Regions from separate parts of the Homo sapiens genome. Here region 1 is linked to region 2. Evidence: fine-mapped expression QTL. A gene starts in region 2. The other region holds a variant in brackets. All regions are shown on one strand. Distances are from middle to middle. Region 1 has its middle 29 kb from the start of RNF182. Region 2 holds the start of RNF182 (ring finger protein 182).

Region 1 (5,390 bases), 29 kb after region 2:
ATACCACAGTTATAAATAACATAGAGCAGTATCTGATCTTAACTACAGATCCCTTTAGCAATTGGTGAAATGCTTAGACAGGCATTTCTTTGCTCATCCTAATCATTTTTCATTCTCAAAATGGTTTCCACACTATTTCTAATGGAAAAGTCCTAGATCATGGCCTTTATTACAAGTGGCAAAAAATTATGACTTATGGTAATATCGCTTAAAATTCAGATAGAATTAAAATCTTTTCCCCTTGCTTAAAAATGCAATATATATTGGTTGCAGAAAATGGGAGAAGGAAAACAAAAATAAAAACCCCACTATAACAAAGAAAATTAAAGTAACCTATAATCCTGCTGTCCAGACAAGACCTCTATTAACATTGTGTTGTATTTCTTCTAAGATGAACTAGTGCATGTGTGTGTGTGCGTGTGTTCATGTGTATTATGTAAATTTGGGATTATACTGTAAACCACTAGCAATTTTTCCTATTATATTGTGAACATAGTCCCATGAAATTAACTATTCCTTAAAAACATGATTTTTAGTGACCACAAATTATTTTATTGTAAAATTGAATTACATTTTATTAAACCATTTCCCTATCACTGAGATTTGATCCATTTGGAATTCTTAGGTATTCTAAATAAAACTCCCATTGAATGTCCTTAAATTAAAAGAATTACAATAATGACTAGAGTGAGATGGTAAAGTGGAGCAAGAAACCACAGCAGATCAGCCTGCCTTTCATCATATGGTGCAGCAGGAGTGCAGGAGTGCCCCATCGGCCAACAGATTCGCTGGAAGAAAGTCAACCTTGAGCCATTTTCTTATTGCAATCCACCGGGCAAAAGAACCCAAGCAGCAGAAAGCCTGGTTGCAGAGGTGATGGCAGGCACTAAGGAAGAGTGCAAATGGGCAAGCTGATCCTACTCTCCAGTATCAGGGAATTGTTCCCTGGAGAAGCATTGCTGGCTCTAAAAAACAAAACAAAACAAAAAACATGCATGTAGCTCAAGAGAGCTAGCATTCAGATCCTGCCACACACCTGACCTCAAAGGCCAGTCCATGGAAGCAAGAAAAGCAGAGACAAACAACAAAAAGGGGACTGCACCCATAGGTCATTGAGTAAGAGATGTTTATTCTTTCCAATCTTTCACTGCAAAGGAGCTGAGCCCGAAGTGGGAGAGAGAGAAGGTGTTCCAAAGGAAGGCCATGCGTTTGGACTCCAAGGTGAGAGAGTCTAGAAGAGCTGTAGAGTAGACCAGGGCCCTTCCCTACCCAGGTCACCTGTGAGATCATTAAGTTCTTCCGTGCTTAAGCCACTGCTAGTAGTTTGTTAGTTGCAGCCAAGAACAACCCTAACTGATTCCTACTCCAAGGTGTGGAACATGCCCAGAAATTATGAGATCTGCTCATGAGTCCTGTAGGGAATCCATCTGCCAAAAAGAAAGGGAGGGTCAACATAGTACAGTCTGGAGACAAGGACTCGGAGAAAGATAAGACTATTTCATGTTCACACTCCAGCACATTTGGACTGTTCAATTAACACACGTACAATCACATGTTGAAATCCTACTTCTGCTATTTGCCAGCAGTGTGTCTTTGGGCAGGTTCCTTAATTCTCTGGACCTCAGTTTCCTCAACACTAAAATGGAGGTAACAATATTTATTTCACAGTGTTGTTCTGAAGATTAAACAGGATGATGTCTGTCCAGTGCTTAACATGTTGGCTAGCATACAGTGAGTGCTCGGTAAATGGTAGGTAATAGTACTGGCAAGTAGTGAAGGAGCCTGGGAGCATGTCATGTGAAGAGATGTTAAGAAACCACATGATTGATGTCTTCAAATGTTGGAAAATTTCTCCTATGAAAGAGACTGTAGACAATCTGGTATTGCTACAGAGGGAAAAATGGGCAAAGAGGGAGGAAAATTCAGGAAAAAAAAGTTTAGCTCAGTAAAAATAAAAAATAAAAAAATTGAAAAGGAAGAAGTTCTAGTGTTCTATACAACCTGATATCATTTTGCTGTGTCCCCACCCAAATCTCATCTTGAATTGTAGTTCCCACAATCCCCATGTGTCGTGGGAGGGACCAGGTGGAGATAATTGAATCATGGGGGTGGTTTCCCCCATCCTGTTCTCATGACAGGGAGTTAGTTCTCACAAGATCTGATGATTTTATAAGGAGCTTTCCACCTTTTGCTCAGCACTTCTTGCTGCTGCCATGTGAGGAAGGACGTGTTTGCTTGTAAGTTTCCTGAAGCCTCCCCAGCCATGCTGAACTGTGAGTCAATT[A/G]AACCTCTTTCCTTTACAAATTACCCAGTCTTGGGTATGTTCCTATTAGCAGCATGAGAACAGACTAATACAACCATAGGATGACTACAGTTAATAATAATATATTATATAGTTTCAAATAGCTGGAAGGATATTGAATGTTCCCATCACAAAGAAATAATAAATGTGTGAGATGATGGATATGCTAATTATCCTGATCTGATCACTGTATATTATATGTATCACAGCATCATTATGTGCCCCAAGAATATGTATGATTATTATGTGTCAATTATAAATTTAAAATTAATTTTTTTAAAATCCAAAAAATAAAAATCCTAGTGCTTTGTTTTGGTTTTCCCCCTTTGGTGACAGCAAGAAGCTTAATAACAACCTGAGGCAAACACATCCAAGGAGTAGAATCATCCAAGTTTGTAGGTATCTTTATCCCTGGAGTCTCCCAAGGCATCTACAGGCTTGGGTTCCCATATTTCTGAGGACAACAGGCTGCTTTTCTGGTGAGTACAATGGCCAGGGGTCCAAGCAGAGGCACATAAAACCCCACAAAGCCCACCTACTTTGCTCACTTGCCATCTTTTGACCCTCTCTTCCCTGCTCCTCCTTTCTCAATTCTATCAGCCAGGAACTATAAGTCAGTCTGAAAGTGGGTGGCAGCCACTGCATAGAGGGGAGAGTAACCCCCAGTACCTCAAAATGTGATCTGATTTGGAAATAGGGTCATTATAGATATAAGTAGCTAAGTTAAGATGAAGTTATACTGCAGTGGAATGAGCCTTTAATCCAATATGACTAGTGTCCTTAGAAGAAGAGGTGAAAGAGACACAGAGAGGAGAATGTCATGTGAAAACACAGACACACAGGGAGAAGAGGGCTACATAAAGATGAAGGCAAAGATTGGATTTATGCTGCCACAATTAAATGACCACCTGGGGCTACCAGAAGCTGGAAAGGGTAAAGAAGGATCCTCCCCAAGAGCAGGTCCAGGAACACAGTCCTGCTGACACCTTGATGTTGGACTTCTGGCCTCCAGAATTATGAGAGAATAAATTTCTATTATTTATTGATTGATTGATTTTGAGAGGGAGTCTCACTCTGTCATCCAGGCTGGAATAAAGTGGCATAATCTTGGCTCACTGCAACCTCCACCTCCTGGGTTCAAGCAATTCTCCTGCCTCACCCTCCTGAGTAGCTGAGATTATAGGCACCTGCCAATAATCTTTTTTTGTATTTTAGTAGAGACAGGGTTTCACCCTGTTGGTCAGGCTGGTCTCAAACTCCTGACCTCAGGTGATCCACCCACCTCAGTCTCCCAAAGTGCTGGGACTACAGGTGTGAGCCCCTGCTCCCAGCCAAATTTCTGTTATTTAAGCCATTCAGTTTATGGTACTTTGTTATGGCAGGAAACGAATACACTCTTCCCTGTGCATAATATACCTTTTTTTGGAACAGGGTCTCATTCTGTCACCCAGGCTGGAGTGCAGTGGTGCAATCACGGCTCACTGCAGCCTTTTTTTCCTGAGGTGATCCTCCTGAGTAGCTGAAACCACAGGCATGTGCTACCATGCCCAGCTAATTTTTTTCAAAGTTTTTATAGATACAGGGTTTCACCATGTTGTCCAGGCTGGTCTTGAATTCCTGGGCTTAAGTGACCCTCCCATCTCAGCCTCCCCAAATGCTGGGATTATAGGTGTGAGCCACCACGCCTGGCCCCACACACAATATACTGGAGCTATACTTTAACATAGCAGATCCACACTGTTGGGGTCTTTAAGGTTATGCAATAATGAGCATCCCAGTTCCCCACTTAAGTTTTAATACAAATTAAAAATAAATCAAAAGAATATGCTAATGACTCCCAAACACACATCTCCAACCAGATCATTTATGTTAACTCCATATCAAAAATATTCTCAATTTCCTATTGGACACCTCCATCTCTCATACACACTCAATATTAAACCTATATTACAGCAATTACTCCAGGAAGACTCCTTTCTTCTAAACTTACTACCACTGTCTTAGTTCAAACTCTTATGGTTTCATTTAACTTAATTAAACTGAAATTACCATCTGACTACTCTGTTTCCAAATCTCTTCCCATCCTTTATTTCACCCAATTTATCTTCTTAAAAATTAAATCTGATAAAAAAGCATAAAGTAACAAGAAATATATCTAACAAAATGTGTATGAGATCTTTAAGTAAACAGCAATACACCTTTATTGAACCACTTGACAGAAAACCTCAAGAAATGAAGAGATGTACCAAGTTCATGTATGGATGAATACAGTATTCTGCAGATTAGTTTCTAAATACATACCATTTCAATAAAAACTCTATGACATTTTTGGTGAGACCTGACAACCTGATTTCCAAATACACGAGGAAGACAAAAGGGACAAAAATAGCCAAGATAATTGTGAAGAAAAACAAAGTTGGAAGATTCGCCATACCAAGCATGAAGACTAGTTATATATCTTTGGTACTCATGCAGAGATAGCCAAAAATGAAACACGATAAAAACAGCCCCATGCTTATGTGGACACTCAATATATGTCAGAGATGTCATGGCAAATTGTCTGTGTTTGGGGACATGGAGAGGATGTATTAGATTCTTTGGGCTACTAAAACAAAATACCACAGACTGCATAGATTAAACAACAGAAATTTATATCTCACAGTTTCGGAAGCCGGAAGTCCTAAATCAATGTGTGAGTAGGTTTGGTTTCTCCTAAGCCCTCTCTCTTTGGCTTGCACATGGCCCCCCTCACTCTGTCCTCACATGGCCTTCTCTTTGTGTGCATACATCTGCGTCCTCATCTCCTTTTCTTATAAAAACACCAGTTCTATTGGATTAGGGCCACATCCATATGACCTCATTTAATTACCTCCTTAAAGGCCCTATCTGCAACTTTTAGAAGATAGTAGGAAATCTTTATGACCTCTGGACCAAAAGGATTTCTTTAAAAAGACTACATTAAAAGTAAAATTTCTGTGTATCAAAAGACCCTAGAACATAGTGAAAAGTGAAAAACTCAAAAGGACTAAATGTCTATCTACAGGAATAAATAAATTATGGTTTGTTTACAAAATAAAATCTTATACAG
Region 2 (5,390 bases):
ATGCTACAACACATTGCACTAGATGCTAAATTACCAACCAGTAATCATGTTATCACAGTGCAACTAGAAATTGCAAGAGAATGTTGACCCAGAAACAGTCAATAAAGGCTTCAGTGGCTTTATTTAGGCTGCCTATGCAGGCTTATATGGTTACAAACAACTGACTTTCAATGGCACAAACATAATGTTAATCCTAACTTAAACAGGAACATTTGTGGCTTTTTTTTGTCTTTGGATATGCTTCATAAACTGAATTACAGAATTCTTTCAGGTAGAATACAGCTATGGTGACAATTATCAGGCCATATTTTACAGCTTATACCAAAAATTAGGACCAATTTTACGTCATAAAATTAAAACCCGTAAGCTAAAATGCAGGAAAAGACTCCTACTCCCGTGAATCAGCAAGAGTGATGACTAGTATTTTACACCTGGGGATATGCAATGCTGTTGCCTGCTTCCACCAGGTGGCTAAACCATGGACAGAAAACACAATTGCTGTTTGCATTTTCTAAGGACATATTGCAGATATCATAGTATTTTTTCTTTCATTATCTGGTTATGCACATACCTCAGAACACTAGTAACACATATAAACATGCCAGATTATTGTTTTCCACTGCACTGACACAAGCTTCATTTCATGCTTCGGAGCTCTTATTAATAAGCCACTACAACCAAGCAGTGCATGCAATACATGATTGTTGATTTCTGTATACCGACTTTATTTTTTGGCAGAAAATGATGCAGCTCTGAAGAAGCCAAACTATATTGAATGTTGTGCCCGTGTGAGCTAGCAGCAAAGGCAAAGCACCGGTCCTTACTGTGCTAAATTCACCATGGATATCTCCGTTCTTCAGCACTCAGATTAAGGGCCACAACATAAATGTTTAGGCTAGAACTCACAGTGTGGGTTTCATCTGGCAGAAAGCACGGACCAAGTCCTTGAACTTGAATACTGGTTTTGCTAACAAAGATCTGAATAAAGCTGTTCTGTTGGTCCCTCAGGAAAAAAAAAAAAACACACACACACACACAAACACACAAAATAATTTATTTTTAGTACAAAACATAAAACTACATTCTCTGTCTATATAATGTGCCTAGGCTTCAATATCCTATTTGCTGTTCATGCTTAAGTGAGAAAATACTTTTCTCTCCCGTTTATCTTCTCAAAACAGATCTACTTCGTTTTAATCAATGTACGATTTTATTACCGTCATGAAAGAGTATTTAGCAGAGCATCTGTGAATCTTCCACAGGTAAAATTCAGTTTAAAAACAAGCCCAATTGTGAAATAACCTGCAAACTGTTAATTGCAACTTCAATCCTTTAGTTTCCAATACAATCTTCTAATGAAGTGGCATTACTTGAAGTTGCTGGCAAATATGAACAGACTGAGAAACCTAGTAATCAGCAGGCTAACAGGTGTTGAAATCCCAAAAGAGGGAAGAGGAATATTAAATAATCACTCTTTGCCTGACACCTCAAGTAGCTGTAATATGCAGAATTCCAATCAACTTAACTGCAATTCAAAATGATCAGTGGTACTGTTTTCATTAATTACTCTCTAGCAAAAATATAATTTCTTGCATTCCATATAGTTCTTTAAATGACCTATTCCAACTTATACATTATTTTACTAAGTTGGATATACAATTTTATATGTTAGATTATTTTCCAGTTATCAATATGACATCTCATATTGTTTAAATATGATTTAAAACAAATCTTATTAACATATATACAATTTCCTTCTGAATTGATCAACTGTATTTCTGAAAATGTATCTGTTTTCTTTCATATTACTACATGTAAGATGATGTCTAAGTACCAAAAAAAAAAGTCTTCACAGTCACAATTTAAATCTGTGCTTCGCGTCTGCAACAAACTATCACGAAATGATTGCAAGGGTTGGGGCCACTGAGAAAGGTACCTATAACCTATCCAGTGCCCCAGTGGCAACCGCATCGTGGTCCTCATCATCCCACTCATAAACACCGATGCAAACACCGCCCAGCTACCTGCCTCCAGAGGTGCTTTGGATTGCCTCCCTACACATAAAAACAAAAGGCACTTTCCAGTTCCTTACAGCATGAACACAATACCTTCTAGAAACAAAAGCAATGACCTCGGTGCCAAGTATCTCCTTGACAAAGTATCGGTACTGCTCTACATTCTGGTCTTGCTAGTCGGGGAAAGCCGGGCTACCCTTACCATCCAGTTATAGGTGCAACTGCACCTTCCAAAGAAAAAAAGGTCTTTCGATTCAATATCCAAACGAACTTCAGAAGCCTCCTCAAAATGCTTCAGCCACAGGCATAAAAATGGGCTCACTTTTCAGAGATTCGTAAAAATCTTTCGCTTGTCCCTCTTACTACCCTCCCAACCCCTCCTCAAAGAGAATGCCATGAAACATGAAAGTCCAAAGGTAAATACTTTCATACCTTTTTTTCCCCCAAAAGCCTCGATGGCACGCCAAGAAGGAAAATAACAACAACAACAGAGGGGCAGCTCCCTGAGCAGGTGCAGCCCGCGCGGGCGCTCCGCAGCCGCCCTCCGCCGCACAGCCCCTCAAGTTGGTGCCAGGACGGCGGCCCCCGTGGTGCCCGGAGGGAGACTCCGCGCGCGGGCCCCGGCGCCGCTCGGCCCGAAGTTTGCCGCCCCCTCTCCTCGGCGCGCTTGGGCGGCCCGGCGCCGTCCAGGACTGCGGGGCTGGCTGCTGCCCCAGCGTTGGGGAGGCCCGGCGTCCCGCCGACCCCTCCCCGGCCGCGGGCGCGATCGCCTTACCTGGCCGGCGGCGGCCCAGGGCCCGGGAGCCGCTCCGGCTGCGGCGGCGCCTGGGAGGGGAGGGAGGTTCCCGTGGAGGAGGAGCTCGCGCGAGGAGCTAGCGGGCTGGCGGGCGGGCGGCTTTGTCTCTACGGCGCTGAGCCGCCGACCCTGCGTCACCATGGCAACCGCCGGGGCCCCCCCGGCCCTTCCCCTCAGCAGTCCGGGTATTCGGAGAGGACAAGGACCCCCGATGGGCCGCCACCACCACAAACACGCCCCTCTCTCAGTCTCCCTCACAAACCGCCTGTTTCTCCCCAGCGAGAGGGGAAGGCTAAAGCGGAGCGAGCCCAGGGCCAAGTGGTATTCGCATCCTAGTAGGCACTCCTTTGCTTCCCCACACTGGACATTCCAACTCCCGTCGCACCACCATCCCCCCCACAGACACCCTCCACCACTACCACCACCACACCTTTCTCCTGTGGAGCTGTACCCTCAAAATGGAAATTCACTTAAGGGAGGAGAAAGAGCAATGCAAAGTGATAAAGTGTTGAGCAACTGGTACTCGGTTCTCCTGTTGCAACTGCCGCAGCATGCACGGAGCTGCCAAGGGACGCCGTGCCGCCTCCTCCCTCTCCCCCTCCTCCTCCTCTCTCTTTTAGCAAGCTTTGCCTCTGCTGGATGTGGTCTCACTCCACCCAACCCGTGTATCTGTCTTGTTGAGGGCTCCCGTAGGAGAGAGGGGAAAGGGGGCTTTATCTCTGATGTAAACACTGGATACACTTGTAACCTCAGAAGCTGAAACACAACTTTCAGGCTGCAGTATGGATCTCAGCTGCTGCCACACTGCGCAGCTACTGGCTGTGACCGCTAAGCATCTACCATGAGCCCTGAGTGACTCTGTGCCAAGGACTGGTCACGTACTGCAGGCCATGGCACTCAGGAGCAGAGAAAAGAAAGCTAACTTTTTCCTCTCCTGAGGAAATTCTTAGAGAGGGAGAGAAAAGTACCAGCAGACCCTTGGTCATGCTTCCTCTAAAGGACGAACTAGAGGGCAGCCTCCATGGGGGGAGTGAGTCATCCCTCCATACTGTTTTCTTGAAAGATCCGTTGCTGAATCCAAAAGCTACAGTGTCTTTCTTCAAACCCTGGGGAACATGACATTTATTTTTTGGCATTTGTGAATCACCAAAGGAATGTCAATGATTTATAATAAAATCCACGGTAGCTGATGTTTTCTGGGTTTACTACTTGAGAAGCCACAAAGCAGAACAATGTTATTGCCATTTGAAGGTACACCTATATTAACTAATGAAAAGATAAGATCTATTTCATGGTGGAAAAGGAAAACAGTTTGTTCCTCGGAGAGACTGGCCACTTTCTTGTAATGGGAATATTCTGAATGAAGTCAATAATATTCCAGATGAAGTCAAAAGACAAGGTCTTTTTGGCAGGCCATTAAGCATTTGGCAATACCTGCCAGAATTCAAAATGCACATACATTTCTCCCAGCTATCTCAATTCTAGAGATCTGTCATACAGAAACACACAAATGTGTAATGATAGATATAAAAGGATATGCATTGCAGAAGTTTTGTAATAGTAAATGTTTGAAACAACTTATATGCCCATCAATAGTGATATGGTTAAATAATGTGGCACTTCATACCATGTAATACTATGCATCCATTAATAAGAATAAAATATATAAAATTCATAGATATTGATTTCTTATTAAATGGAAAAGGGGGGCTCAGAACCGTATGTGTGGGTGATCCCATTCTGTACAAAAAAACTGGATATATAGGAACAGAACAAAAACATAGGGATAAAGGTCTATAAGAATGCCTACCTAATTGCTAGAAGTGGTAACCTGTTAACTACAAAAAAAATTGAAGGGACAGTTACCTCTTACGATGTACAATTTAGTACACATATTTGGTTTGTTTGGCTTTTTCAAATGAGCATTTATTAGTAATTTATCAATGAAGAAGCAAAAACAAAAAGCTTTAATAAATGTTTGTTGACCTGCATGCACATTACTGCCTGATCAAAAACTGAATACAGAACAGGGAGGGACCATTGACTTGGCCATCCCTGCCCTCAGCTGAAGGCTTGGAAAAGTCCACGTTGTGTCCCCACTTAGAGCATTGCTTAGTGACCTGGTCCTGCGTTATTCTGTGAGACATTCTTCCAGACATTCATTTTTCCAAAAGAGGTTTAGCTTTATCTTAAGGTCTGCTTCCATTCTGCCTCTTGGAGAAAATTAAAAGACTTGTCAGGAAACCATCTTAAAATGTGCCACCTTACTTACCAGGGGATATCATTTGAATAGGTTAAGTGGCAGCTTTTAGTCTGTTTAGCTAAACTGAAACTGAAGATACTAAAGCTTAAAAATTAATGTGTGGATACATGACTAGTCTTTCTTATTCTCACCATTTTTGAAATGAGGTTAAAATAATGAATTTGCTTTCCTAAAAAGATCTAGAGCTGCACAGTCTAATTCAGTAACTGCTAGCCACATATGAATTAGCTACTGAATTGGTATGTTCAGTAAGTGCAAAATACACACCAGATTTCAAAGACTTGGAACAATAACTTTAAAAAAATAATATCTTATT

The links. PIP is the estimated chance that this variant, and not a neighbour inherited with it, causes the effect.
Region 1: its variant is the best candidate, but not a certain one, in a credible set for the expression of RNF182 in substantia nigra (GTEx, PIP 0.88).

The regions. Positions count from the first base shown.
Region 1 is chr6:13,893,573-13,898,962 of GRCh38, reverse strand. No RefSeq gene overlaps it. Among named protein-coding and RNA genes, the nearest start is that of RNF182, 29 kb to the left of the region's middle. The variant A/G (reference allele first, on the strand shown) is at 2,285.
Region 2 is chr6:13,922,424-13,927,813 of GRCh38, reverse strand. RNF182 (ring finger protein 182) reads right to left here and starts at 2,862. Exons shown (of 3, transcript NM_152737.4): 1 at 2,791-2,862. RefSeq lists an enhancer at 3,467-3,967.